3 separate regions of the Homo sapiens genome follow, and regions 1 and 2 are each linked to region 3. Evidence: fine-mapped expression QTL. A gene starts in region 3. Each other region holds a variant in brackets. All regions are shown on one strand. Distances are between the middles of the regions. Region 1 has its middle 120 kb from the start of ITGB8-AS1. Region 2 overlaps ITGB8 (integrin subunit beta 8). Region 3 holds the start of ITGB8 (integrin subunit beta 8).

Evidence for each region.
Region 1: its variant is fine-mapped to the expression of ITGB8 in whole blood (TOPMed, PIP above 0.99).
Region 2: its variant is fine-mapped to the expression of ITGB8 in pancreas (GTEx, PIP above 0.99).

Annotation. Positions count from the first base shown.
Region 1 is chr7:20,448,450-20,459,047 of GRCh38, reverse strand. No RefSeq gene overlaps it. Among named protein-coding and RNA genes, the nearest start is that of ITGB8-AS1, 120 kb to the right of the region's middle. The variant T/A (reference allele first, on the strand shown) is at 5,472.
Region 2 is chr7:20,376,508-20,387,105 of GRCh38, reverse strand. ITGB8 (integrin subunit beta 8) reads right to left here. Exons shown (of 14, transcript NM_002214.3): 4 at 7,809-8,055; 5 at 6,275-6,440; 6 at 5,221-5,379. LOC124900239 (small nucleolar RNA SNORD56) reads right to left here and starts at 9,775; the gene lies at 9,705-9,775. The variant G/A (reference allele first, on the strand shown) is at 5,510.
Region 3 is chr7:20,325,093-20,335,690 of GRCh38, reverse strand. It overlaps ITGB8 (integrin subunit beta 8), which reads right to left and starts at 4,791. Exons shown (of 14, transcript NM_002214.3): 1 at 3,758-4,791. The coding sequence starts at 3,884. It overlaps ITGB8-AS1 (ITGB8 antisense RNA 1), which reads left to right and starts at 3,929. Exons shown (of 3, transcript NR_110120.1): 1 at 3,929-4,041; 2 at 6,178-6,324; 3 at 6,835-7,390. RefSeq lists silencers at 3,831-4,070, 4,541-4,930 and enhancers at 5,011-5,300, 5,401-5,470, 5,558-6,170.

The DNA.
Region 1 (10,598 bases), 120 kb before region 3:
TAGATTATATTAATGATGCCCATTTTAAAAAAATAGATGAAGATCCACAGAAGATCGGATTTGTTTGTGCATTTTTAAAAAATTGAATGTGGTGGGGGTGGGGGAAATCTATACTCAAGACACAATATACAAAAGAAATGCACTTTTTCCTTGCTGTCAAAGGACTGATGACATGGTTAAGGCATGATTAATGCTGTGAACAACTGGGGAAACTGCCTCATAAGTTAGCAAATATGGATTCAAATTTGGGAAATCCAATATGCACATTTGGAAAAACCCATCATCATATAGCAGAGTACAGTTGCTTCATGATCTTATTAAGTTGCAAAACACGATGGAGAATAGATTAGCACATAAAGTCACTGGGAAATTTTTATTTTATTACAGCTAGACATGTGAACATCTTGATAATATAATATGTCAACAAAATGATGTTGCAATAATGTGGAAATACCTGTGTGGGGAATAAGAAAGATATGGTCAGTGGTTTGAGTTGGTTCTATTTCCTCTTTATTGTTTTCTCTGATTTTAAGATTTGTGTGTATTTCTTATACAAAGTATAGAAGTTACAGAAAATCATGATGAAGAGAATCAGTTGCTCACAATTCCTTATTCTAAAATAACCATTAACATTTTTTAAATGGACATATTATAAACATTCTCCTATATAATTATTCTTCTACAACCTCATTTTCTTTCATAGTTTTAAAATTATAAACACATGATTATTAGGCTGAACATGTTGGCTCACAACTGTAATCCCAGCACTTTGGGAGGCCAAGGTGGGAGGATCACTTGAGGTCAGGAATTTGAGACCAGCCTGGGCAACATAGTGAGACCCCGTCTCTACGAAAAAAAAAAGAAGTAGCTGGGTGTGCTGGCACCCACCTGTAGTCCCAGCTACTTAGGAGGCTGAGGCAGGAGGATCACTCAAGCCCAGGAGTTCAAGGTTGTAATGAGCTGTGATTGCTCATTACAACCACTGCACTCCAGCCTGAGCAACAGAGTGAGACCCTGTCTCTTATATATATAAATATATGTATATGGATATTTAGGTATATGATTATTATAAAAAATCAAGAAACACACATACATACATGAATTTAAAAATCTCACGTTTCCTACTACTACTTCCCATGCAAATTTCACTCCGCTGTTTCAAACACTATTTGATATGTATTCTTCCACATATTTTCTGTGCAAACACTTAAAACAATGGTTATCCTATTTTACTCTTCTTTTTCTTTTTTCACAGTAATTGCGGTAGACTGTTAAACTGATGATCCCCAAAAAACCATGCCTCCTGGAATATGCACCCTTGTACAGTCTTCTCCCAAATTGTGTCTGGGCTTGGCCATCTGTCTGTCTTGCTTTGGCCAGTGAAACACTAGTAAGCTTGATGCAAGCAGGGACTTGACAGGAATTTGTAAGCTAGGGCTTGTTCTCTTGGTTCATTCCCTCTTGAAACCCACTACCATGCTGTAAGGAAGTGGTTCTAGCCTTCTGAATGAGGGGAATCTGTATGGAAAGGAACCGAAGTTGTTCCAGGTGGCAACCGGCTGAGAGATGTGTTAGTGAGTCTTCCTGGATGTTCCAGCCCCATTTCAGCTGCCAGCTGAATGCAGCACTATGAGTGACCCCAGACAACGGCACAAGGAACAGAAGACCACCTCTAGTCTTTCTATGGCATGTGAAACATAATAAGTAATTGCTTTACACTTGAATGTTTAGCTATATAGCAATCAATAACTAAAACAATATTGTTGGTACATATGTATCCTCCTCATTCTTCTTAATTTCCACTTAGTGGGCAATTACGTGAATATATACAACCTTTTATTTAACTAGTTCCTACCTGATGGACATTTTGCTTGTTTGGACCAACAGCATTGCAATGAACATCAAAATTAACACTAAGACAAATATTTTAATATACAAATATTCATGTATACCTCTGGATATGTTCTTAAAGTAAATTTTTAGGTATCTCTGAGTCAGAGAGTAAGCAATTTTTAGAGCTATTGGCAGATACTGCCAAATTGCCCTCAAGAAGAGGAAAGATATCTTTATTTTTCAGTATGGACACACTGAAGATAAGAAAAGCTACATTTAATTACTGGTAATCAGCTTGGACTCTGGCCTGATTACCTTAGCTAATTACTTGGGTTGAGGAGGTGGAACATAATTGTAGAGAAAAAGGCAAGCAAACTTTAAAAAATGTCTGCTGGAATGATGATTCACTTGGAACCAAACATTGTTAGAGTAGAAATTTATATTTGGTAGTATCTGTTTGAAAAAATGGGAAGAGAGAGGGATTGTGAACTTGTACAACTCCTTTTTTAATGTCTAGTTAAGTTGAAGGTGCATATATCCTTTGATCCAGAAATTTCACTTCTAAATGTAGCTCAGAGAAATTCTTATGTGTAGAAATAGATGAGGACATTTAGAACAGTATTTCTTGTAATGGCAAAGCAATCCTGTTTGTAAATAGGAAAATGGGTATATATTGATACAATAGAATAATGTAGTGGAAATGTTATTATAAATCCTGATATATAAAAAAAAAGAGGTCGGGTGCAGTGGCTCACGCCTGTAATCTCAGCACTTTGGGAGGCCAAGGTGGGTGGATTACCTGAGGTCAGGAGTTCAAGATCAGCCTGGCCAACGTGACGAAACTCCGTCTCTACTAAAAATACGAAAAATTAGCTGGGCATGTTGGCACATGTCTGTAATCCCAGCTATTCAGGAGGCTTAGGCAGGAGGAGAATCACTTGAACGTGGGAGGCAGAGGTTGCAGTGAGCCAAGATCACAACATTGCACTCCAGCCTGGGCAACAGAGCGAGGCTCTGTCTCAAAAAAAAAAAAAGAAAAAAGGAAAAGCAAAAAATAGGTTGTCAGAAATACCATTTGACCCAGCAATCCTATTACTGGGTATATACTCAAAGGATTAGAAATCATTCTACTTTAGAGACACATGCACATGTATGTTTATTGCAGCACTATTCACAATAGCAAAGACTTGGAACCAACTCAAATGCTCATCAATGATAGACTGGATAATGAAAATGTGGCACATATACACCATGGAATACTATGCAGCCATAAAAAAGAATGAGTTCTTGTCCTTTGCAGGGACATGGATGAAGCTGGAAACCATCATTCTCAGCAAACTAACACAGGAACAGAAAACCACACACTGCATGTTCTCACTCATAAGTGGAAGTTGAACAATGAGAACACAGGGACACAGAGGGGAATGTCACACACCGGGGCCTGTCGTGGGGTGGGGACTAGGGGAGGGATAGCATTAGTAGGAATACCTAATGTAGATGACGGGTTGATTAGTGCAGCAAACCACCATGGCACGTGCATACCTATGTAACAAACCTGCACGTTCTGCACATATATCCCAGAACTTAATTAAAAAAAAATAGGTTGCATAAGAATTTATACTATATGAACCCATTTACATTTAGTTTTGGAAACATGAAAAAACTATGGTATATGTTGTTTAAGAATGTATACAGATGGAGTAAAAGTATAAAAATATATGGAAATAGGCATGAAATTTATAGTAATAGTTATTCTGTGAGAGAGTGAGTGGGCTGTGATCAAAGATCAGTTCTCAGAGACTTCCAAAATTTTTGCAAGGTGGTATTTCTTAAGTTGGGAGGTGAGTCCCTGACTATTTGTTGTTTTTTAATACACATTTTATATCTTAAATATTCCATATATACATTTCTGTGGTGTAATATTTCTTGGTGCTGAGAAGGGGAAAATAAAGGTGGTGACTGAGGAATCCCCTGCCATGTGGAAAATCAGTTCTTTGGTATTTGGTTCCTACTGACTGGATGTGGAATCCCCAGTATTTTGGAAATATTTGGAAGATCAAGAAAGTTTTCCAGTGGATAGGGCCTTTTCTCACTTCCTTTAAAGATTTTCCTAATGTCTTTGTATTATGAAAATGCATTTATGCCTCAGTTGGAAAGATAATCCATGGTTTGTGTCTCTTCCAGTTGAAGTGTCAATCCTTCACCTTCTTACGTCAAGAAATGAAGGAAGGCAGTATGGTTGAATGGATAGAACATGAAGCCAGACTATCTTAAAATCAAATCTTTGCTTCTTTTCCAGTAAGCTGTATCAACTTGGACAATGAGTAATTTACTCAATTTTTCTGATTTGTTGTGAAAGTCAAATGAGATACCCTATATAAAGTGCCTGAGACATAAGGGCAAAGTCATATTCTGTTTTGTATCATAATCTATAATTTCTCCATCATTTTAATTATATCTATAATGATAGAACTGAGTGATTATATTCAAAAGCCAGATTGAAAGTCACACATTGAAACTAAACCAAGGATTAGTAGAATATTTGTTTTTTCCTGGCTAAACATTAAAATAGTGTGCTGAAGACATCATGCCACTCTTTGATCTTACTGTTGAGTGAGCTGTTACTTCTCAAGGCTAAAGACTTTTCCCTCATATATAATTGCCCAGTAAAGAGTTCTTCATTTATATTGGAACAAAAATGAGTACATGTCTTGGTATGTGTGCCTGCTATTTGCAAATTAGTGTTTATGATGACAATTTTCTTTTAACTACCAGAATGATAGCATTTCAATCCATCAAAATTTTAGACTTTAAGTGGTCTCCAGAGACCATTTCTAAGCCTATTGCTGCTCCTGTTCCTTGGCCCATCTCCATAGTTTGTCAGGACCTACTCCGGGGAGGGTGATCCCTAGGGCCTGCTTCACAAAGAGACGTGACTGATTCGTTGCCAGGAACATCCTTTTCTTGCCTTCACTCTCCTAACTGCGGGGCCCATAGAGACTGCTTTCTCAACTCATCACACTCGCTGTCAGTCCTCTTCCTCAACTAGTGATGGTCTTAAGACTTTAGGAAAGAGGCCGGGTGCGGTGTCTCACGCCTGTAATCCCAGCACTTTGGGAAGCCAAGGCAGGTGGATCACGAAGTCAGGAGATCGAGACCATCCTGGCTAACCTGGTGAAACTCCGTCTCTACTAAAAATACAAAAAAATTAGCTGGATGTGGTGGTGGGCGCCTGTAGTCCCAGGTACTTGGGAGGCTGAGGCAGGAGAATGGTGTGAACCCGGGAGGCAGAGCTTGCAGTGAGCCGAGATGGCACCACTGCACTCCAGCCTGGGCGACAGAGCAAGACTACGTCTCAAAAAAAAACAAACAAACAAACAAGAAAAACACTTTAGGAAAGAAAGTGTATTCCTCTTTGGAGGAATTTAGACTCTCCTAACCTCACCTGAGTTTCCTCAGCTTCTGCACCACAGTTTGGCCCTTGTGTCTCACCTTTCACTGCTGCTGTTCTGCTTTTATCCTCATTCCAAACTCGTTTGATTTGAATTAATTGCCTGTTAATGGAAGTATTAAATAAATAGAAGTTTAATGAAGCCAAAGAACTTAAAGAAGGTTACACTTCTTTTGTCTTGGCAAAT[T/A]TGAATGGTAACTGGGTTGCATTAATTGGCTTTATACATTTGCTGGGCACTTACTCCAACTGAACTGTTGAGGCACTGAAGCATTAAAGCAAACTGAGATAAGGCAGGGAACAGAAGAGACAGTGTCAATAAACAATACACCAATCAGTTAAATAGAATTCCGTTGATTTAATTTTCTTTCCAAAAATTCTGGAAGCCTAATCCTATTTGGCTTATAAACAAAGGAAATATATGCTAACATCTCATAGCACACACTTTCTTCCATTTCCATGTCCTCTGATTAGAGTATCATCTTGTTGTAGGTTTTTATTCTTCATTGTTGTTCTTTACATTTCATTTGATTAGCCAATGCTATGTCTTCCATTACTGTAAAAATTTCAGAGAAGGGAACTAATTATTTGATGAAATGAAAACAAAATAGAAAGAAAGAATGACATAGGTGGCCCATTCAACAAAGCAATGACTAAAAGTTCCACATACTTAACACATACAAAAATTGGTTCCACATACATGCATTTTTAAAAAAATGAAGATAACTGCTTTATGCACATTAGTGAAAATACTTGTTAAATATATCTTGAGTAAATGCATGTTTTTCACAAAGTAAACTTCAATGAAGTGTTTTCTTGATAACTTGAAGGAATATTTATCAGTTAAAGTTTCTCTTCGGATGTTCCTGTGTGGATGCCCATATACTAAATACACTAAGATGGTTATGGTTTTAGAACTCAGATATACTTTTCATAGATCTTCTGTATTTTCTCAGCTTTCTGCTTGTAAGCCTGACTATATACATGCTGCCCACCTTTAAAATCCTTGTCCAATATTTATAAATGTTTCACAATTTGCAGAGACTAAAATCAGACATATAATATGTCTCATTTTTACATGAGCCTGGTATGTTGAAAGGATTCAATAAATGTTAACTGCCGAGAAAGTTGTTTATAATTATTAATAGATCTAGAGTAAAAGTTATTAGGTTAATCTTGAGTGACCTTGTACAGGAAAATATATACATTTTATCATTTTATGTGTGGGTGTTTTTGGTACCTGTTTTCGTGCTGCTTTTTTTTCCTCTTGCTTACTTATTTAGTTAGAAGATGGGTGAAGGACAGGGGACATATTTCCACAGAGAAGCATAAATTTTCCAGAGTTTGTTTTCCTAAATTATATAGGCCTCTATGACAATACTAGTTAGTAGTCCACCCTTGCAAAACTCATTGCTATAGTGATCCACTATTAATGAGAAAAGTGTCTAGGTCAGATTAAGCAGGCTTGGGATAAATTAGATGTTGTTTCATGTGGTTTAAAGAAAAAGGACAAACTCATTGCCAACTAATGAGAGACTTATAGTTCAGGAATTAGATTTACATAATTTTATGTTTTAGGTTGTTTTTAATTGAAATTCCATTTAATTTAACACTGTATGGGGTAGAAGGTATTTAGCAGAAAATGAGAAACGGTCAAAATATCCAGCAGTAAGGAATGAGTAAATAATTTATGATACATACATATGATGGGATATTATGTAGCCATTAAAATCAGTATTAAATGAATATTTACTAAATGTAAAATGCTCATAATGAAATAAAAAAGAAAGTAGGATAAATATTGTATAAGAACTTGTATATCAATTTAGGAAAATAACAGATATATGCAAAGGAGAACAAAAAAACAAAACAAAATAGTAGACAATACTTGATAGTGGTATGACTGGAAATTTTAGTGGGTTCTTTGTTTTCATTTGCATTTCCAAAATTCTCTAATATATATCTATTATATCTGATACATTTATATCTACTAATATTGTATATGAATCTAATATATATATAATGTATGAGATATATACATCTATTATCATGGGGTTACTTAAAAAAATAGACAGCTATTATTCACATACTACTACTAATACTACTCCTACTATTACCACTTATAAAGAATTATTACTCTTCTTAGTACTTTGCACATGTTAACACACTCAACTCACTCAACAACCTGATGGAGACAGTCTTCCATGGGCCCCCTGCACTCTTACTCATCTTGCTGAGTATGCCACGAATACAAAGCTTTGAGCACTCTTTACCCAGGACACTTTTCAGGCTTATATTTGCAGTGATAATCTTAGGAGATGAGCTAATGTCTCCCTCTGGGACAAAGAGTAGGCTTGCTTACAGGCTGCTATAAAGCAACAATTTCCCCTGGACCTGTATTCCTCTGCTGTAACACAACACACTGGGTGCCAGCATCCATATAAGCAGACCTGTGGTACTACCAGGATTCAGAGAACTGACTCGGCCAAGCTGATACTCTGCCTACTGTGTTTGGTATGAGTAATATTTTGTCTCTGATCCTGGAGTCATATGTCTTTCATCAGTATTAATGAAACCGTGGCAAGTTAATTTGTTAGTTTTCAAGTGGGGTAAAACTTAAGACCCTCACAGTTTTTGACAAAATTCCATTTCATATTCTATGGATAAGGAAAGAGAGACACAGAGATGTTAAGTAACTTACTTGAAGTTACATAGCTAGTGAGTGGTGGCGTCTGTTGTGAACCTGGCAGGCAGGCTCTGGTGTCCAGGCTCTTATTACTCTGAGTACCTTAAGTAGTTCTGCCACTTGTAGCTGCTAAAACTAGGTACCTTGTGAGGTCAAAGGACTACCAGCTGCATCATGTGCTCAACAACTCTGCAAAATAGGGCTGAGGGCTTCTAGGAGTTGCCATATGATGGTGCTTCTGCCATCTGCAAACACATGAGTATGGCAAATTGTCACTGTGAGAGCCTGGGAAAACAAGTCCCTCTATTCCGAGAAGATGAACTAAATGTAAAAAAAAAAAGGGGGTGAAGAAAAGCAGAACTATTCTCTTATCATTAGGCTTTGCATCATGCTATTGCATGCTTGCTATTTTGTAATATCTCCGTTTCCTCCTTAAAGAAAAAGAACACATTGTGTTTGGAAGTCCTGACTTGTCCACAAGCTGTGTTGGGATGGCAATCATCTTGGCTATGGAGGTGGGTCTCCTTATGACTTCAAAGCAGCCACCAGGTTGAGTCTTCAGAGCTTGACTCCAAATGAATCTCTAGTTGGGCCTGGATTCAGGACTGCTATAGTATCCAACTCCTGAGGGTGCCATCCACATGCACACAGCATCAATGTTCTCTCCTAGAGTTGTATGATGCGCTATTTAGACCTTAGATACAGTTCACAGAGAGTGACATCACTGGCAATGGGCTTAAAGCAGTGCAGGTGATATCTAATTTTTAGTTAATGCCATCTTGAGTTTGAAATAAATGGATTTTGTTGGAAAGCACTTCTGAATGAGGTTCTGTGTCAGATTTCTTTCTCCCTGCCCCTGATTTTTGGAAAAAAATCTCAGACAACACAAGCTATCTGTATCAAAATATTACAGGTTTATCCTGATTCAGCAGGTCTGGAGAGGGATCTGAAATGCCACATTATTAACAAATCCATTGCCACTCTTCCATGGAAAGTATATTGAATAACAAGATTAGCATTTCACATACTTCTCTGATGATAAGAATCACCTGGGCCTCAAACTTTTAAAAATACTCTCAGCTCCCACCGGGCACGGTGGCTCGTACCTGTAATCCCAGCACTTTGGGAGGCCGAGGCGGGCGGATCACGAGGTCAGGAGATTGAGACCATCCTGGCTAACACGGTGAAACCACATCTCTACTAAAAATACAAATAATTAGCCGGGTAAGGTGGCGGGCGCCTGCAGTCCAGCTACTCAGGAGGCTGAGGCAGGAGAATGGCGTGAACCCGGGAGGTGGAGCTTGCAGTGAGCGGAGATCGCGCCACTGCACTCCAGCCTAGGTGACAGAGCGAGACTCCATCTCAAAAAAACAAAACAAAACAAAACAAAACTCTCAGCTCACATCCCTAAAGCTCCTAATTATGTGGGCTGGGGATGGCCTGAGCTTTTTAAAGCAAGTAACCCAGGTGATTCTTTTCATCAGGAAATTTTGGATATGCTGTTATAGACCAAATCTAGCTCTGATTTACTATTGGCAGTAGGACTTCAACATTAAACAAACAAAAACCACAAAGAGATGCTTATAACTAGGGATGAAACTCATGTGACTGGGGCTTAAGAAACTGTTAGTTTCATGAAGGCAGGGAAAAAAGTTGTTTTGTTCATTGTGATATCCGAGGGACTTAGTGCAGTGTCTGACAAAGTGAGTACTGATATCATATTTTCCTGTTTCCTTTCTCTAGGATCCCCACAATCTAGCCCTGTATTAGTCAGAACTCGTGTGATTTCAAATGACAAAAACTCGTCTTATGCCAGCTTAAGCCAAACTAGGGAATTTTTTTTTGGAGGGGGAGGGTGGTTAGCAAAACAGAACAGTATAGGGTTGATCTGATTCTAGGCATAGTTGGATTCAGATGTTCAAACAATATTAATCAGTACTGTTTCCTTCTTTTCTTCCTCCTTGCCTCTCCTACCTTTCCCATTTCTTCCCCTTTTCTCTCTCCCTTTCTCTCGATCTCTTTCTTCCTCTCTCTTTGCTTGCTTTCTCTCTGTTTCTTTTCCTTTTCCTTTGCTTTTCTCTCCTTTCTTTCCCTCTTTCTTTCTTTCTTTTCTTCCCTTTTATCTATTTTTTCTTGTTTTTCACCTTTGATTTCCTCTGTATTTTCAGTAGGCTTTCTCTATATAGGAAAAAATGTCCAGGGGCATCTCCAGGTCTACATGGTACTTGAATCTTAAATCTCAAGGGAAAAGAGAGTCTCTTTTCTGACAGTGCCAACAAAATTCTGGAGCAGAACCTACATGACCTCTTCCTATGTGTGTATATGTTTGCAGAAGGGAGTACTTTGATTATTTAAGCCTGGGATTAATTCTATCCAAATCATATGGATTGAGGAAGATTGAATGGAAAGGGAGGGGGACAGGTCATTCAAAGCTGGGGAGGTGGTATTGTGCAGACAAACATATGTCCAACATAGGCTCAAATCTACATTTCCAGCCTCATCGTTTGGCCTATTACTTGATGAAGTGATGACCTGCCCTGAGAGAGTTGCTGATCTGTGACTATTTTACATCTTCCCAATTCTATCCCTGCCCAATGTATTCTTTTGGTTTAAGGCTTGTCCCTCCACCCC
Region 2 (10,598 bases), 51 kb before region 3:
AATGACTGCTTAATAAGAGAGATTTGGAGGCCTTTCCTAAAGGCAAGATATGCTCTTGGATGTGCTTTCCTTGACCTATGTCACTTGCTTATCTTTCTTACCTGGCCCTGCAGATGTTTGAGTTTGTGGCTCCTGGCAAATATGACATCAGTTGTAATCACGATACCCTATTTACTGAAGAAGGGTATGCATTGATTTTTGTAAGTTTTTCAATAATAATGGCAACAAAAAGCTTTCTGCTTAAGTATGACTTACCTACAACATCTAATTTAATGAGAATATTCCATTCTATAAAAATTTTTATCAAAGTTGAATTTTATTGTGTCACTTTTGCAAACCATAATTTTACCCCATTTGAAAGGCATTACACAAGCAGAGCCAGGCTACTTTGAGTCTGGCACAGGTGATTTCTACATGCAATTTTGCTTTCAATTAAAACAATTCCTACTAAATATTGTTTGCAGAAATCCTTTCCAGGCCACTCTTTTTGAGAATATGAGAAGCATTCAAATTAGTTCTCCTATAAAATTACTATTAAAATGTTCTCAGGCCAGGCGCAGTGGCTCACGCCTGTAATCCCAGCACTTTGGGAGGCCAAGGCAGGTGGATCATGAGGTCAGGAGATTTAGACCAGCCTGGCTAACACAGTGAAACCCCGTCTCTACTAAAAAATCCAAAAAAAAAAAAAAAAAAAAAAAAATTAGCCAGGTGTGGTGGCACGCGCCTGTAGTCCCAGCTACTCGGGAGGCTGAGGCAGGAGAATCGCTTGAACCTGGGAGGCGGAGGTTACAGTGAGCCAAGATGGTGCCACTGTACTCCAGCCTGGGCGACACAGTGAGATTCCGTCTCAAAAAAAAAAAAATGTTCTCATAGTGTTTACAATTTGAAGCAGATCATTCAGCAAGCTGAAATCAGGTACTTTGTAGTCTTTCGATGCCCCAAAAGATGGAACAATCGTTTTTAAAAGCTGCACATGGACTTAAAACTTTCTAGTTGTATTCCATACCTGGCACAAAATAAGTGTTCCATGAATTTGCATTTTTATTAGTATGCATCTGAGACAAACCTGAGAAGCAGAAAAAGATTTAACATTTTCTGAAGTAGAAAAGGCCACGTCTCTGTCGGGAAACAGCAAACAAAATTAACAGATCTCTTTATTAAAAGATCACAATTATCTCCTCACATGGAATTCTGTCTGATCTCAACATTAGTTATAAATGTTTTCCAGACTTTGAAAATGTCAGAAATATCCCTTTCAGAAAGAATAAATGTAATAGTGTTATGAACGTTTGTTAACTCAGGTAGCAAAGTTATGGATTACATTAGCAAAGTAGCTTCTTAAGCTCTCTTTATTCATCTGCAGTCCTGGAAAAATTAAGTATAATTCCAAGTAGATAAGATTCATAGTAAAAAGAAAGCTTCCTAAATGGCATACTTAAAAGTCAAGTACATGTTAAAGTTGCATGAGGAGAGGCACAGTGTTGACTATTTTTGCCAGTGAGAAAGCAAAACTGTTTAATGCCTGATAGGCCTTCTGCAATTCTGCCTCCATGCTATAAGATGCTGATCGACTCAGCAGCTAGCCTATCCAAATGAGCCTGCAGGAAAAGGAATGAACTATGAAGCCAGCAGTAAGGGGATTCTGAGGAGGTATATGATAGGAGGGATAAAGAATCACTGGCCATAATGTGATGAGGCATATAAAAGGCTGCATGGAAAAACACCAAGCCTAAACCAGTAAATACTAGTGAATATATGGTATGCACTAGTACATACAATAGGAATGTGGTAGGATCTTGCCAATTTGAATCTCGCTATTTAAAACTGTGAGTCACATCAACATCTGAAAATCCCATTGATAAGGTTCATTGGATGACCTCCACATACTTGTTCCTTGGTCTTCTTTCATTGTTACTGAAGACCTTCATGCTATTCTTGGCCTCCACCAAGGGGTGGGTGAACAGTTTCTGGGAGGGCTCTGACTAAGGGTAGAAATAACCCTGGAGAAGCTGGGTGGGGAGACAGGGTGAAATTCCAAACCCTCAGTATTAATAGTCTACTACATCATTAATAATTTTTGTATTAACATCTGCCATTTTAGAAAGAATGTCACATTTCAAATTGTCATTATCACTGGATAAATCATAAAACTATACTATTGCTACAGTTTTTTATTCTGGCACTTGATCTTGATGAAAAAGCAGTGGAAAATGTAATTTATTCAATAGTGTAACATCATTTGCCAGCAACCATATACAAATATCACAATGTGTAAATATAAATTATTTTATATGTTGTTTTACAACTTATGCAAGTCAAATCATCTGGTTATACTTTCATAAGACTGCAACCAGAAAGACAAGAAATGACAACAAGAACATTATTTTTCTTTTTCTTCTGCATTTCAGTCGACAGACTGTGGCAAAGTAAAGAATGCAGATTTTAATATAAGATTGAGACAGACTAGGGCCAACTCTGCAATTTATTAATGTTTTAGCTGTTTATTCTCAGGCAACTTACTTAGCTTTTCTGACCCTCAGTCCTGCTGTTTGTAAAAGGAGGCTAATTATGACTACCTTATAGAGTTGTTGTAAAGATAAATTTGATGCTGTATGCAGAGTGATTGCTACAGTGCTTTCAGTTGAATACATACTCAATAAAATGGCAGTTGTTATTAGTCTAGGGTTCACATTGACCTTCAGGAAATAGCTATATGTATAAGCAACAGAACTCTGTCCCATGTAATTTAGACATATAAAGGGTTTTTTAATCAGTTGTTTCCTTTTATAAATACAAACCCCAAGACTCTTGAATCAAGAAACTCAGATACCATTCAACATTATTGGCATTGGCTGCTGGAGATAAAGCCAAGAAGCAAAGTGTTTGATTACTTGTCTTAAACAAAATTTAAAATTCCTCCATAATGGCCAAATAGGGGAGGATAGAGGTCATTTTGAAATGCACAAATAAATATGCCTAGAGTCAAAGTCAAGGTAGCTTTCAATATAGAACATTCCAAAGCAGGAGCACATCTTGAATGTATAAATTCATGGCCAAGGGATCAATCAAAATGCTTCAGCTTCTTTTACCTAATATGTAGGCAGTGACCCTACAAATGAAGGGAATGAGAATTTTTAGGAAGATAATCCTTTAAAACAAAGACCTGGGGTAAATAAAATAAAAGTATCCTTCTAAGGTGTTAACAAACACATTATTCCTTGGATTACTCAATATACTACAGCAGTGACATGTGGAAGGGTCACTCCTTTAAATACTGGGAACAATGACCAAGAAGGTAAAAGGTCTTGATGTAATCATCCAATTTCCTGATGTCATAAGAATCCAAGCCCTATCTAAAATTCCACTGGACTTATAACTTATTTCCATAAGGTTCTATAACATGGTATATGCCTAAAATTATGACAGCATTTCTTTGCCTAGGAAATCCTCCCTAGATGAGCAATAGTATCCTTTTAAATACAATTATGGAGAGATGACTTCAGTGACTTGGCAAAACTTCAAAAGAATAATACAATTTGAGAATAATGTCATTGTTATTTTCTTCTTAAAAAAATAAAAACCTTCTCTTTGTCTCACAATAGAATAATTCTTCCTGTACCCTCTCCTACTCCCCAATAAATAAATTAGAACTCTACCATCAATCAAAAGAGGTTAAATAGAAGGAAAGATAGATAAGAAATGACTAAGTAGAAGTAGGTGGGTCTGTCAAAGTGAAATAAGGCTGAGTAGAAGAGAATTATGGAAAGACACTATTGGAATAACTCCAATTCTTGAATTTTTGAATTCAATCTCTAGTTACCTTTTAAAATCTTTATATTTTGATACTACTTTCAAGAAACTAAAATGACCAAGTGTTGAACCTGTTTCATATGGTAATACAATTGCCACTCTAGAATTTCAACAGATCTGGTAGGGTATTGCAGATGAACTGGTGATCTACTTAAAATTTACCCATGGGAACCACACAAATTTCAGCATAATTTTCATGCTTCTGATACTGTGATTCCCAAACTGTGTGTGAGGTGTCTTGGTGCACTGCAGCACACTCCCAAGGGTGGCAGGAAATAATTTAAATCTTCAAGAGAAATACAGTGACATTCAGCATGTATCAGGTACCAATGAAGAACTAGTTGGAGGGAGTTCATAGTTTTAAGATTACATTTCGTTCTATTCTTTTAAATGACATTAATCTTTACCAAGCTGGTCAACTTGAAAATCAACACGGAAGAAGAAATCAGGGTAGTGATGACCAATCTGATTTCAGGATTTGAAAATTTCTGAAGTTACTTACTAAAACTGAAACATGTATCTCTACACTTGATACATTTGTATTATTTTTAAGGAGATACTAAGTTGTTAAGACATAAATAGTTGAGTTATTTGGACTTAACCACTTAAAAAAACAGAACTATTAGGTATTTCTTTTGACCCACGGGTGTCATGGAATAAAATCACTGAGAGACTAGGGTCTCATGAACTGAGAAAGTTGGAGAGGTTCTGTTTTAACATATGCAAGAATATATAAATAAGTGTCAACATCAGAAGTAAATGATGCTTTGGACTGTTGATTCTTCACAACTAGAATTAGATAATGCCAGGGAAGATATGGTTCTAGGTGATTATATTAAATATATGATTCAGAGCTTATACTAACCCTCAGGAAGCAAGCCAGATAGTCACTGATTTAAAAAGAGACCTTAAATAGATAAGATGCAGAGAGGTAAAGTACAAAACAGAGAAAGCCTGCTTTGTTTGACTCTCTTTCTCTCTTGTCTTTTTTCCCTGGTTTCTATTTAGTTTCTACCTATTGTACTGTGAGGTTTCCTCCTTAAAATGTTTGTAGATATCGACCCCGTAGACCTGGTCTATTTGTATAAAGCAAAGGTATACTTTTTTCCCCTGTCTTAGAATTACATAAAAAGTAAAATCTTGTATCATTTTTATTTTCAAAAATTATACAGTGCTTTGTCATTCATCAAAGAGTCAGCTACTAGAAACTGTCAAACTGTTTTATTCATATATTTTATTGATCAGTATTTATAGATTGCACTGTTCCATAAATTCTCTCTCATGGCTTATCCTTGTTCTGTATCTTTCTTTTGTAGGTAATTTCCTGGTACAAAAATAGTTGAGTTGCCAATTTAAAATTGTACTTTAACCAAAAGAGTCATATCTACTAAGCGGTTACTGCTGCATTACCATGGTTGTCGATTTGACATAGACGTTGTTTTTCAGATGACAGTTTCCGTCATTGGGCACCACTATGCCTGCCAATTTGCTATCAAGAGCGAGATGAGACGTCTGATCTGTCATCACCAGCAGCAATCTTTTAGCCTCTTTTCGCCATCCGATATGACTCTTAAAAATAAACATGTAATTAGACTTTGTACAATAACACAGATGTGTACTGTGGTTTTTACCTCAAGTAAACATTACGTTTGAGTTGACGAACAGTAAGTCAGGCTAGAACGATGTGCGTGGGTACAAC[G/A]CTGCTGCGTAAATAGCTTTAACTTTTATTTGTACATCCTCTATTTTCCCACAGCCATGTGACCACACTAGTTCCTGGCTAGAGATTTCTAGTGTTCCACTGGAGGAAGAACAATATAGATTAAAAAGTAGGAGAGGCCAGGCACGGTGGCTCATGCCTGTAATCCCAGCACCTTGGGAGGCCGAGGCGGGCGGATCACGAGGTCAGGAAATCGAGACCATCCTGGCTAACACGGTGAAACCCCGTCTCTACTAAAAATACAAAAAACTAGCCGGGTGTGGTGGCGGGCGCCTGTAGTCCCAGCTGCTCGGGAGGCTGAGGCAGGAGAATGGCGTGAACCCGGGAGGCGGAGCTTGCAGTGAGCCGAGATGGCGCCACTGCACTCCAGCCTGGGCGACAGAGCGAGACTCCGTCTCAAAAAAAAAAAAAGTAGGAGAACAAGCTGAAGTGAGGAGGGCAACAGTCTACTTCTAGTTCCTCCTTGGAGTGTGGCGCATGAGAAAAGCAGCCCTTTTGGAAAGAATTTTCGCGTTCATAACCTATTCTTTCCCTTTTGTCTTTTCCTATTTAAATCCCTCCCTGAATTTAGCCCCTCTGTCCCAAACACATACCGAAATGAATCACCTTGGTGAGGAGTAAGAGATAGTAAGATATGTTTTCTTCTACACTACGTTTTCACTCCACAAATCAAAGAGAAAATAAAACGTCTAAATTCTTTGAAAGTTTGGCATCTTAGCAAACACTCGATCATGTGAAACGTCTTACTTCACAGACAGCTGCCTGAAGCATGGCGTCAAAACCTCCTTCTGGTGTATCTATGTTTCCAGAGATCTTCTGTCTATGAACTGCTTTCTCAAACTCAGTGATGTTCTCTGTCAAAGACAGCACATGGATGTATCCATGGGGAGGCATGCAGTCTAAATTGTAGTCACTGTGTGGGAAAAGAAGAAGTGTAAAGTTTATTTTGCTCTTCTTAAGCATTCTGGAATACTTAACAGTAAAATTGTACAGTTGTGTGAAAAGGGAGTACTTCTTTTGTGCCAGGGAAACTTTATACGACGAAAATCTATGCTTATAAAATTAGAGATAAGCTCAATGCTGATGACAATTTCTTTGCAAATAGGAAATAAGACTATAAGCATTTGGTATTCAAAAAAATAAAGATGATTAAACATGTTTTTTAATATAGGACAGTTAAAGGCTTTCAATATTTAATCTGCGCTGTGAATTTTTAAGGTGAATATAAGAATGTGCAGTGATTTCTTATCATTGAACAGCTGAGAAACACTTCTGGAAAATGCTTTTGAGGAATTTAGTTGAAATATGATATTAGTTTTTTTTAATACTGCACTAATTTTTAAAGTGATGCTTGGTGGAATTATTGATGAACAATCAATATTCATTAAAATTATTTTGAGAATCTATGATACCCAGAAAGTAAGAATGATTCCTCCTGTACATTCACCTCAAGAAGGCTTATGAAACTCCATTGATGGATGCATCAATCCTGTTCCGGTACAACAGATGACAGAGCTGTTTCGGTAAATTGGAATGTGTATTGTAAAGTAATCTAAGCAATTTGTAGAAGCAAGAAAGATAAAGTCTTTTGTGAAAAAAGATCCATACAGATTTATTTTTCTGAAAATTCCACAGGCTAATGGCAATATTGTGTGAGACACTTGTATTTTTAAGGCTAATTCTTCTTTCATAGTGGGACATATGTTATTTAGAATCAGAAATCTAAAATGATAAGAAAAAAGGCTCTTTCTAAGCAATCAAATTCTCATCTTTTGACCCACTTTCTTTGTGATAACTGAGATTTCTTTGTAGTCACATCGGAGACAACATCATTATCCCCAGTCACAGTACAGTAATGGAGAGATAGATGACGTGTTGGCACAAACTCTTTAAAATGTGTCAAATCATAATTCAGCAATTTTGGAGCAATCAAAAAATAAAAATACAGAATTTCCAAAGAGGTATTTATATACATGGCAGCCTAACTATTGAAGCTTCATTCAAAGTTACTAACATTAGGTAGGGTTTTTTGTTTGTTTTTTTGTTTTTTTTGGTGATAAAAACTGACTAAATATTTAAAGAAATATAAAATAAAAAGCCCAATCTACAGTTCATCTCAGAAGTTTTCAGATATGAAGAAACCTCCCCACCTCACCAAATATTTTTATTCTTATTTTATAAGATAAAAATATAAAATTTGGTAAGTTCTTTACATTAAAAACAAAGTGAGATTTTATAAGCAAAAAATTAATTTAGCATATCCACATCAAACCCTAGATACCTGCATTGATTATGAATCCTTTCGGGGTGGATGCTAATGTATGGTGAAACTGTTTTATCAACGTATGAGCCAAATCCAAGACGAAAGTCACGGGAGAAAAATGCCATTTTTCTAGATAAATCGTTTCCAACGGAATTTAATTTTTCTATATTATTGTGCATTGATGCTGAGACATCAACAAGATAATAAAGATCCACAGGATATTTCTTCAGAGGATGAACTTTCAGCATAAAATTAGCTTCGGCTCCTAGTTCAATAGAAGAAAAACATCATGTAGTCTTCATTTTAAACTTTTCAGGATAAGCTCTTAATAAATTAGTCACATTCTAGCACCTAGCACAATCATCACAAATTTGCACATAAAATTTGGAATATGCTAGTGTAATTATAATAATTATAGTATAATTATTATTCTAGTATAATTATAAGGCAATTTGAAAACCATACCAATTTATTGGTCTCCAAATCCTACAGTTCATTTCCCACAATTCTATAGGCTGAATAGGGATAATAACAAATGGGCCAGCTCCATATAAATGTAACAGGGTATTGTATCATTATATGAACCTCCATTGCCTTAGTAGCTAGAAAAACACAGTGCAAACCAGCAAGCGGCATTCGATCTCAAGACAGTGAGGGGGATGTACGTGTGGAATGACTTGAGGAAAACTGGGAAGGTATCTTTAAAAAAAGGTGATCTCCTATTGGATAAAGGCATAAATTTATTCCTTTGGGTTAAAGTGTATTTACACAGGAGATGAGAAAACTCTGGTACTGTGTAGTACAGCAAGCTATTCAAAATAATTAGTACCTCATCACTAGTTAGTTGGTAAGATTCTTCCCATCAGTTAGCCAAGTGAAGGAATGAGACAGTGGGCTAAAGAATGGTGCCCTGCAGTGCCACATGGAGGACCTGGGGAAGGTAGGGGTCAGCATTTGTCCAACACACGGTAGGTGTTCAATGAACACATGCTGAGGAGGGGGCCCATGAGCGAGGCACCCACCTTGGGCAAAACAACTGGATGAGGAGAGGGGGCTGCCACAAGGACAAATGTCGGTAGTCCCCGCAGGGAACTACAATTTTATTTAGTTCTCTGTCATATTACTATTTGATACAAGGACTTGGGTTGTCCCCCCTAACCCTCTATAGAGTTGGTACCTCTACTTTTAATTTCAAGTATATGGTGAAAAGGCATCTATTTAAATGTAAGCAATTTGTAATTTGTAAATTTTACTTTTTTAAACTATTAAGTAAATGCTTTGTAAGTCATTATTTTTCCATAAGAATATTCCGAATGGAAAACATTTTTAAAATAAACATTCATTTGTATACATAATTTACCTATTTAAAGAACCTTCTAATTTATCAAATTATATTTTTGGTGTTAGCATAAAATAGCAATATTTTCTTTTCGATTATTTCACAAATCAGATGTTTTTCAGCCAAATTACCTACTGTATTCAAAATAATAAGGTTTTGCTGGTATATAATAATAATTATGGAGAAAGGGACTACTCATTCCTAATTTGCTTTTTCTGTGCAGGCAACCCCTTTAGTGTAATGCTCCTAGGTTTTGGCCCATATTTGAAAGGAGAAATAGGGCACACATGGCCCAGCCCAGTCCATTCTCTCATCCCTTGCCTTCAGAAGCTAGGCTGCCTCCTGAGAGCATATCCTATATTCTGCTCTGCTTTTGGGCTTCTGTTGACAGAAAGAACTGTTCCTGTGGCAGTGTTCTGCAATTTGAGTGGAGAAATTAAATTCAGGGGAATGTTAGACACTGGTACACTGGGCCAGATCGATGAGAAGTAGAAATTCAACACTACTGGGAGAGCGGTTCATGTTCAGGGACTTGAACCTTGATGTGTGGATCAGCGTTTTTTTGGTTTTGTTTTTCACTCAGACAAAAAGTGTCGACTCTCTCTAGGTGAACTGCTGTTGATGAAAAGTGTTGCTATCTTTGTAGATTTAAAAAAGATTGTTTTTGTAAACCGGCCACATGGTATCATGGTATTTTTATCTTGGTGAATCGTTGCAGTTTATGGTGGCTCTGTCTAAAGATAAATGGCTGTTTTCAGAGGTACTGCTAGATGTAATAGATGGTCAGCATATTGTGCCAGGGACCCAGCAAAGGTATAGGTTGGTGACCTCAGCAAACAACCAGGGCCTGTACAGCATCAGCAAAAGCCCAGTCCTTGGAGGTAAGCTATTCAGGGCCCTCCAACCAAATGCTAGCCACACAAGGGCCCTCAGCAGAAACCAGCTGCTCATAGCCTAGCAAGCAAATTCCGGTCTCGCTGGCCTCAGCAAAGAAGAGAGGCTGTGAGAAAGCACTGCCAAATGGTTGGGGTGTGAGAGTGTGGGCTGCTGTGGCTCGATTTTGGATTCTATAAATTCTGGCCTTAGCACGTATACCGGAGTCAGCTGAGGCCTTGGTAGAGAAGTTTCTAATAAAGAGGAAAAGAGTATTTCCATACACAGGCCTTTTAGTAATCGCTAGCAAGAATAATAATTGATATTTTTACACTGCAAGACCCTTGAGCTTGCTGTGAGGGTCTAGCTTTAAGTAGTCAATTCAAGGTAAATAGACCTAGCTAGGCTGACCCCAAATCGTGCTCTGCTTGATAAGGAGGAAACCAAAGGGGTCAAGCTTGGATTACCATGTCATGCCCATTAGTTTGAGATAGTCCTCATAATATGCTCTCAAGTTGGCTTTGGATCATATAATTATAAATAAAGGAGAAGACTCTTGGGGGCAGGTGTCCTAGGCATCAGTATTCCACAGTAAG
Region 3 (10,598 bases):
TTCAAAGAGAAGGTGAGGAGAAGAATCGGAGAGAGGAGTTACGGACAACTCTTTCAAGGACTTATAGCAAAAGGAGAGAAAAAATAGGAGATAAAAAGGTTTTGCCACATATATGGATATTGCTTTAAATGATACAGTAGATAGGAGAAAAACTAATCATGCAAGGGCAGGCAGATCCTTGAAACTGAAACTTTACAAGGTATACCTGCTGTGATTCCATTGGAATAAAACAATTAACATTTGTCACGGGAAGCAGATTTACTCATGTTGTTTTTCTCTGTTCATATACATGCGTATCAAAAAGCTATTACATATCCATACTTTCAAAATAAAAATATTTTTAATGGAACTATAATAGAACTATTGAAAAGTAAATGGTTGAAACTGTGTCTTTCCCATTCCTCGTGTCCTTCTCTTTTGCAATTGCTTCCCTTAAAAATTGTGAACATTCTTGTTGCCCTAAGTTTCAGTTTTTAAAAAAATTCATGCTTTAAGATTAGTTACAGTGTGTTCCTCCTCCAGTAGTATTTTTATTTACTGAAATATTTTAAAATAAAATGATATGAAAAATTTCTTTCAAAATATTTAGTTGGGAGAAGGGGGTGAATTGGGTACCAGCAGGAGCACAGATGAAAGAAGTTGGCTTTGAGTTGATGGTTAATGAAGCTGGGTGATGAGTATATAGTGGTCCCTTATACCATTCTCTCTAATTCTGTATGCATTTGAAAATTTCCATTATACCATGTTAAAAACTTTAAAAAATCATAGGGTTAATACCATGGTTAACCAAAAAGAATCCATTAAGTAGTGAGATTTCAGATAATTTGGTAACAAGAGAAGAAGTTATTTTGGGGCACAGGAATTTTCCAAAGCATATCAGCTACTTTGCTGTCAGTTTAGAGGGCAAACATGTATGATTTTTAATTGATCAGAAAGTGTCTCCATTGCTTCAAGATAGAATTAATTTGGGAGCTTATTATGCAAATAATTTAGAAGGCTGAATTTTTTGTTAATGATACCTTGGTTCTTTTAAATATCCGATCACTTTAGGTAAGCATAAATAATTCTGGGAACACTTATGCTATGCAACGCTTTGAGGGGAAGTAATGATATGGTCACAAAATAATGTTAATCTAGTTGATTGTTGTTGAAAATAATAAATAATTGATACTTGAATAAACAGAAGGTGAAATTTCATTGCAATACACAGAAGGTGAAATTTGATTGCAATAATAGTTACCGCTTTTTTAAAAGAAACTGTGATATCTGAAATTTGTTACACTTATATTGCTATATAAAAATTTAGGTAATGAAAGTTCTTAATCTTTTAAAATAAGTAAATGTGGAAACAATGTTGCTACATTAACTCTTCAAATATTAACCACTAGATATACTTTATGTTTTTCTGGTTATTTATTGACCATTTTACAGTGCTATTATTTCTCTAGCTGTGGGTAATCTTCACCAGAGACAGTTAAAAAACAAACTGCTATAATTTTTGCTACATCAGAAATCTTTGGATTTGATTAATAACATCCCCCACTGCTCACTATATATTTGTTATTAAAAGTCCACTATATGTTCGAGACCTATAAATTCTGCTTTAAAAATTAAACCCAAAGTTATGCTGGTCTTATGCAGCTTCTGGTCTCTTTTGTATGGCTTTATTGCCCTCAACATTCTCCTGGTGTAAACTACTGAGCAAGGAAACAAGATTTCCATTGTAACTGATACCTAAATTTCTATTCTGCTTTAAGCATCTAATTTGCACTGTAAAGACATATAATTTGAGACTTGTAGCTATATCACAAAAGTACAGCAGTTTATGCTGATCTCTAATTTTCTGAGTTATACTGGCTATAATTTACATTTTTTGCATGTTTTTAACTGCCATGCAAATCAGTATACATCAGAAACCTTTGTATATTGACAGAGACTGGGAAAAGGATGCCTTGTTCTGATTTCAGATAAGCATTCCCTTTTCAGGTCTGCAGGTGCAAGTAGGCCCATTCATAATATTTCCTTCAAATCAGTTTTAGACACTGGGTAGAAATGCAATGCTTTTTCACAAGAGCCTGACTAATGTTTATAAGCACAGTTAATGGTTTTTAAAAATGTACTTTAAATAGTAAATTTTAGAGGCAAGTAGGACTTTTTCCTTTGCCTGTACGTTGGGAACAAAATATACTGTGTTAACACAAATTTTGGTCATTTTACTAGTGTGTATGTGTGTTTACTAAATCTAGAAAAGCACTTTATTACTTATTGAAACAGGATGAAATTATGCTTAGCGGAAAATTTGCTGCAACAAATGCATGTTTCTTCCATTTAAGAGATAACTGATAATGAATGTTACTTTTTCCTTTGCCTTTTCACTATTTTGAAATCAACAAACAAGCCAAAAAATAACCACAAGATAAAGAGATTTACTCTAATTTCTCCATTTCAGATAACTGAGCAAATCTCCCTGAAACAAATATTAGAAAACTGTATATGCAACAATTTCCTAAAGATAGCTGGATGTTTCCATATATCTCTATATCTATATATATAAAACCTACTTATAAGGTTATGATTTGACTGTTTTAATTAGCTTCAGGCAAAACCTTGACACTTTAAAGTATAGGAGTAAATTTTAACCTACAAAACAATTACAACTATTAATTAAACTCTCCTTGAGCCCAAGAGGTCAGAGAAAGGCTCTAATATAATTTAAGGACTTGGTGACCAAACAGAGAAAAAGTGAAATTAAAAAAAAAAAAAAAGAAAGTATGACAAGAGTCACTGCATTAGCAAAAATAAATGTTGGGCCTATATTGAAAACCATTAAGAACTCATCCTAAACTCATGATTCGTCCTATTACTTAGTTGTGTAATTTTCCAACAATCCAATCTGGTATACCACCTTACATTTGATTTTGTTTCATAAATCAAAAGTCCTAAAACACCTTCTCATATGCTATTTGACTTGAACTTTCCTTTGTGATTTAGAGAAGGCAGGTATTATTAATAAACCTCGTTTTACAGATGAGGACAATGCATTTCGTAAAGAGTTAACCTCTCCACATTAAGGTAGCTCTTACACAAATGGTTTGCCTGGACAGAAAGCTGTTAATCCTGGTTCAGAGTTCTTTCTGCTTCTCTGTCTCAGAGATTGATCTCAGTGAGGGATCAATTAGATAGTATTTTTTTTTTTTAAGCCGAAAGGATGATGACTTAAAGCATTAATATCCCTCCAGTGTGGGTAATTCATTCAGATTGAGCACTAATGATAGCAGAAACTTGTATGCTGTCTTTTTCTGGACTCAAAAATTGAAGACTACTCCCATTATAACCAACTTATCTACAGCCTCGAGTTAAAGGCAAGTTAGTCCTTAGTGGACCCAAATGTTAGAAAGATAGGGAGAACATTGTGTACAGACGATGCCCTTAAGAATGGACCAGGGCCCCTAAATGACTTCTGTAAACAGGACACCCTCTTTTCCAAAATTCCTTTCTATTAGGGCTTCCTCAACACCTAGGAGTAACACAGAGTGTCTCCTCTGATAATTAGTCCTTGCTGTCGCTCCAGGGCAGAAATGCTTGACACCTGGCCTCTAGGCCATCTGTGCTGGAGGACGCTGCCCCGCACCCGCCCCCTTGAAGTTCTCTGATGACCGCAACTTACCTGGCCGGGATGCTCTGGCCGGGCAGCTCTTCGTGCCAGCCCAAGACCTTTGGGGAAGAGAAGAAAACAAAACAAAACAAAACAACTTACCACCTTGGCCCAGTCCAAGAACAAGTGAAAACACCCAGGCTGCCCAGAGGAACGAGGCGGGACCTCGCCGGTCGTTTTGCAGGCAGACAAATGCAGCGGTAAAAAAAGCCAGGGCCGAGCCGCACATAATGCAAAACAGCCCGCCCCGCGCCCGCCGCCTGACTGCCTTCCGGACGCGGGCTCGCGCCTCCCGGGCGCACCTCGGGGCCCGCGGGCCGAGTGTCGCTAGGACGTTTTCCGCAGGCCTAGCAGGCGGACCCCGCGGCTCGGAGCAAGCGGTGCAGGTAAGCGGGCCCGGGCACCGCTCGGCATCTCAGGGCCCCTGCGGCCCTCCCGGCTCGGCACGGCGGGTCCCGCGGTCTCCGCGAGAAGCACCTCCTTCGACGGCCAAGGGCCCCGGCGGCGACTGGAGAGAGGGCTCTGCAAGGGCTCCGCAGCCTGCTCCGGGACAAAGAAAAGAGCTTTTGTTTCTCTCCAGCCGGTGGGGCTTCTGCTGCATAAATCAGCTTAGCGAAGAGCCAAACACAATCAAACCCAAACAAAGCCCGAAGCTGGGGGGGAAACCACCCTAATGTACATTCACTGGGTGATGCTGGATCTGTGGGAGGGGACGCCGGCGAGGTCGAGGGGAAAAAAGTCTGTGGCGCATCAATCAGCGCAGTTGCTTCCACAGGTGGGCAGGGAGGCCAACACCATTAGTTGCAGCTTTGCAGCCCCGTCTGCGGAGCAGCGGGCAAAGACAAGTCGGCAGCGTCCTGGCTGGCAAGGGAGGAAGCTCGGGATGCCAGCAACAGGGGGAGGCGGCTCTGGGAGCGCCCTAGAAGCACCCGCCGACACCCGCAGGCACAGAGCGAGGCATCGCCGCTCCCTCCCTGGCGGGGAGTGGGGCCTGCGGCTGCGAGCGCAGGAGGGGAGGTTCCGCGAGGTGCCGGAGCCCGGCTTCGCGGGGCGGGGGCTGCGTGCCCTTGTCCTTTTCGCCTCAGTGCGCGGCTCAGGCGTCCCGCAGTCCAGAGCCCGAGTTGCTGGCGCGCTCTGGGGTGCACACGGCTAGGATGCGAGAGAGGCGAGGCCGGCGATGGGCGGGAGAGGGGTGGTCCTGCTCTGGCCCCCCGGGGGGCTCCAGACCTGCGGGTAGCCGGGTGCACTCAGGGCAGAGAGTTGCTAGGAAACCTCCCCACGCTACCGGAGCGCCTCGCCTCGGCTGCCCGCAGGCGCGGCTGCAGCCCGGGCAGGAGCAGCAGTAACAGCTCGGAGCAGCGTGGGCGGGACATTGGTGAGGCATGAAGTCACCGCGGCCCACACTCGCTCTTTGTTTTGCTCACTCCAGCTCTTTCTTTTCCCCCTTGGCTCTGATAGTTGCCATTCCCATCGTTCACAAGAACTCCTGAAGCGTAGCCGCGCAACAGGAATGGCACGCCTCGTTCCCTTCTCCCTCCTCCCCCGAATCCTTGCACCCCAACGCTCGCGGGGGTGGTGGGAGACTCGCTCAGCGCCAGCGGCAGCTGCGAGCAAACCCCAATCTCTCACCCCCGCGCTGCTCGCCGCTTTGTTCGGAGATACTCACTGCCCCGCAGCTGCTGCATACAAAGTGGAGTCAAGGGACCTCCCCTGCCCCCAACGCCCTCTACTCAGCACTTTGCTTGCAGTTAGGAGCTCGTCCTCTACCCCACCACAAGGCTGCCCCGGTGTCCCTAGCCTTTGGAGAGTTGGACCAGTCTGCAGGGGCTGTTCCCGGAGCGACTGGCCGAGATTTCTCGCTGCTCCTTCTCTGCTCAAAACCTTAACCCTGGACTGGACAGCCCTGTTTTTCCCCAGCGTCTGGTGGTGGCTCTGGGCTTTTGCAAGTTACAGTGGGTCTTTTGATCTTAAGCGTCACCTTCCCAGTAAACGGAACAAAAAGTTACAGACAGCAGCAAAGCGGGGAGAGGGGAGCTAAGGAGAGAAAGTGGAAGGCACTTCTGCCTGCTTGCAGCTCAGAAATTTAGGTGCAAGTAGGGTGCGGGTGTTATGCTGGGCAACTGCCCGGAAGCAGCGCGCCTCCTCGGGTCCTGTCATTACCACGCTAAGTCGAGGGAGGGAACTCAGTCCCCCGCATTGGAAACAAGGCAGTGTTTCCAGTTTAACACGGTGATGGTTCTCTTTTCCCTCTAGGGGCAGGAGCGATTCCCATTCGAGGAGTTTGACCTCTCATTTTAATACAACACCCGCCTCTTAGAGGCAGCAGACCAGTCCAGCCAGGTCAAGGTGAAATATGCGGGAGTTTCCCCCCTTCTTATTTAATAGTTTCCGTCTCCTTATTTGTAGTTAAAAAAAAAAAAAAAAAAAAAGTAGGAGGCGCGGTCTCTCTCTTTCTTTCTGTTGACTGAGTGAATGGAAAGTACCTGGTTAATAAACCACAACATCGAAACTCCCCCTTTCAGGTGTGGACCGCACAACGGGGTGCACAGGATTAGTTAAGCAAAGCAGGAACCCAGCTGGAAAATTAAACGAGCCCTGGATCTGCAAAGCAGGTCCCTTCGCGAGACCAAAGCCGTGATCCCAACCTTAGCAACATAATTCTACTGGAGGTGATGTACTCTAAATAAATAGAAATAAATCCAGCTCCGCTTTAATATTTATTTCCTTTCCTTAGTTCCAAGTTTGAACAGTTATAGTTTTGTTTTTTGGTTGTCTTAAAGGAAAGGCCTAAAAATTAGTTAGGATGGGTGTGAGGACTTGAAAATTTGAACACAAAAATATCATATTCAATATCTGATTAGTGACTCTTCCATTGGGCAGCCTGGGTATTTTCCAGGGGTTATGTCACAGACCTACTGAATGCAGCCACCCTTGAGACATGCAGTGCTTCAATCAAAAAAAAAAAAAATTAAATCCCTAATTCCCATAAGGACATGTCAATACACTTTAAAGTGTCTATCATATCACCATTCCATAATATTCTAAAATACAACTCTTTGTTGCTGGGTTGTAAGTGGCAGTTACAGTAATAAATAAAATATAAATGTATGCAAACAAGAAAGGATGTAACTTTATGAAATTGATGAGGTATGCACTAATTTTTGTAACTCTGTTTTTAGGTGTTGATATATATACTAATCCAGAACAACCATGTAGCAAGAGGAATAAAATGAAGTTCAGAAGTCTGTTTCGGGAAATTTTGAAGCCCTTTAGAAAGAAAGATTTCTACATTTTGTTACATGAAATTCATGCAAATATATGTCAGGTGCCAGTGCTATGGAGTTGTTGAAGAATAAGCACAATACCATTTATTACCACTTCTCAGTTGTAAAGAGGCTGTAACTCTGGTTGTCGAAATAAAATAAAATGAAATCTCCTAGATGTGACACTGTGACCCCTGCCAGTTATTTACAAACAAGTTATCTGCACATTTTGGGCTGTAAACATAAAAGTAAACTCTCTGAAAGACTGCAAATCATCTTTAGGGTTTTCTTAAAGTAAATACAACTAGTGGCCCAGGAACCAAAAGTTTGCTTGTTTCCAGTTAATGTCACTGGTCACCATAACTCACCCTTTTTCCTATGAGGAAATGTACAGCATATTTTAAAGAAATGCAGTATTGTTATCTTCGTCATATTACCTGAAGAATTCTAATAAAGGAAAAATGTTTCGGAAGATGGTGACTTGATTAATTTGTTTTTCCATCATGTTCTGCTATATTGCTTTGAAATTTCTGACAGCTAATTTTTCATCATTTGTGGTAATGAGAGGAAATGAAATTCACAGATAGTCTAAAAATAACATTTTAGTTATTCATTCCAGGCTTCCTATCATTAGAGTCTTTGAGCTGAGTTACTAAAAAGTCATAAAATTAAATTACTTAAATTTCTTCCCTACTCCTTTAACCTTGATTTCTCACTAAGTGAGTTTATGGTGAGAATGAATAAGCTATAGATAGGTAGCAGGAGTGAGGGAGACACTCAGACTGTTTTTTAAGAAATGGAATCTTGCTATCTCACTATGTTGCCCAAACTGGCCTTGAACTCCTGGTTCAAGTTTGAACTCAAGCTATCCTCCCACCTCAGCCTTCTGTGTAGCTGGGATTATAGGTGTAAGACACCACATACAGCTGTGGCTATTCACACTTTAACTAGATGTGCCCAAATTATTGATCTCATAGTGGCACCTACAGACACATTTGAATTTTAATGTTACATCTTTTTGAAGTTGGGATCAGAGCCATTCAGTACGTTTTGGGTGGGTATTCACAAGTTATCTATAAGCTTGCCTGAGACATCTCAGAAGATGATTAATGGTCAGACCAGTGAGATATATTATTGTGACTATGACCTCTAGCTTCTTCTAATGATAAAGTACATAAATTGCTTGAAGGTATTTTTCACTGAATTGTTACATAAGACAGTGTTTCTCATACTGTAGACTGAAGACTGCATACAACACAATCCCCCATAGAGTAATTCTGAGTTCTAATTCCTTGTCTCTATTCCAGGAGATTCTGAATTAGTAGATCTTGTATGGTGCTCAGCAATCTGCATTATACCAAGGTCCTCAAATGGTTTTTATATGCTCTGAAGTTTAAGAACTTCCTACTTTAATGGGTTAATACAGAGACTCCTTAAAGGCCTCATGAGTGTTTAATAACAGAGATCAGTGTCAGGTGCAAATTCAAAGAAAAATGAACTGCTGGAGCCAGTGTCTCTTGCCAAGATAGTTTATGGATGACTCAATCTGTGAGATATTAATGTTTTCTGAAACAAGACTTCCATGATTAAGCTTGGGAAATGCTGAATTAAAGTCAAATTAAATCCCTTACTAGAGGAATTTCCGGAAACTCAATAGAGCAGCATGCCATTAGATTCTCCAAAGGAAGAAACCTGTATGAGAGAACATCTCACAGATTAATTTTCCTCGAAGCATGCTACAGAGCTAGCCCCATTTTACAAATGTGGAAACTGAGACAAAGACTGGCAAAGAAACCAACCTCACTTTTTCAAGGGAATTCATGAGCAGGCAGAAATCAGAGCTCTGATTCTCCTCAATTATCTCATATTGTGATGACTTCTAGTTTCAAGTAAAGAGTCAGATTATGGCTGTTCTAAGTAAAAAAGGAAACTATTGGCTGGGTGTGGTGGCTCACACCTGTAATCCCAGCACTTTGGGAGGCCAAGGCAGGAGAATCACCTGAGGTCAGGAGTTCGAGACCAGCCTGGCCAACATGGCAAAACCCGTCTCTACTAAAAATGTAAAATTAGCCTGGCATGGTGGCACACACATGTAGCCCCAGCTATGTGAGAGGCTGAGGCATGAGAATTGCTTAAACCCTGGAGGTGGAGGTTGCGATGAGCTGAAATTACATCACTGTACTCCAGCCTGGGTAACAGAATGACACACAGTCTCAAAAAAAAAAAAAAAAAGGAAATTCTTGAAAGAAAATTGGGAGCCCACAGAATCACAGAATCAGCAGGAAGCTGGGAGACTACGACTAACCAAGGCCAGAAAACACGGAGGCATAAGCAGTAGCAGGAAGTGTCTAACTCTTAAGAACAACTTTGAATCCTCCCTTTGCTTTGGATCACTTGCTCAAGATTCAAAATCCTTGTTGGGAATATCTAGTTTTCAGAATTTTCATCATATGTTAGTACACTGGCTTTCTGGGTGTGGGAAAAGGAGAGAAGGGGCTCTCATCTTCAGCTTTCTTGGTAGAAAATATGGGTACTTTTGAATGAAACATTTTATCCGTGCATAGTCTAATCCTGTGCACAGACCCTGTGCATAGTGTTATCCTTTTATAGCATGCAGTAAAATAATACTTGTTTAGTCTTTAACTCATCGTCAGAAAGATGATGTCCCTGGCTCACCACTTCATCACATACAACTGGAAGTCTGTGTGCTAGAAGTGCTAGGGAATGAACAACATTCCTGGGTGCTGTCTTAACTGTGCACCAACCAGATGGGAAGTGAGGTATAAATACCCCAGCTCCCCTGTTTCTTGTATGAAGTCACTTTAGGCCTTGTGTTCTACACTATTTTTGAGCTAGTTTTTAATTTTCAATCTATCATGGATTGATACTTAAATAACATAAAGTAAAAATGAATTATTGGAAAAATGGGTATCACTAAAATGTCAAATTGCTATAAAAGTTTCTTAGTACTTTTAATTTTTATACATTCTTTGTCCTGGGCCAGTCTCAAACAGTAGAAGGACTGGTACTGCCACACGTTACATTTTGAGTAATATTTAGCACCATTTTCCAAAGTTCCCCTGTAGGAGTAAGCTATACTTGGTCACAGTGATAATTGCATTCAAATAGATCCTTCGTTGGTTGTCTTTCCTTCCTTCATTTCCCTGTGACCCCCAATATTTCCTGGTGTCAGGGTCCTCTTCTGGAGAAAACTACATTAAGACAAGCAATAAATGTGACTGGAAACTAACCGCTGGTGTCCTGCCTGTATGAATTTAAATTCTTTTCTTGTCTGGCTATAAGACAACCACAGTGCAAAAAAGCACATGGGCTTTAGAGTCTTATGAAGTAAATTTGAATCTGCTACCCACTAGCTATAGAATCATAGGTAACTTATTTAATTTTCTGCAGCCTCAACTCATTTATGTAATGACTATATTAAAACAACTATCAAAATTACCAATTAAAATGAAGTATCACTACACTCCTATTAGAACAGCCAAAATCCCAAACACTGGTAATATCAAATGCTGACAAGGACATAGGGCAATCCGAACCATCATCACTGCTGGTGGGAATGCCACTTTGGAAGATGGTTTGGCAGTTTCTCACAAAACTAAATGATCCAGCAATTGTGCTCCTTGGTATTTACCCAAAGGAGTTGAAAGCTATGTCTACCC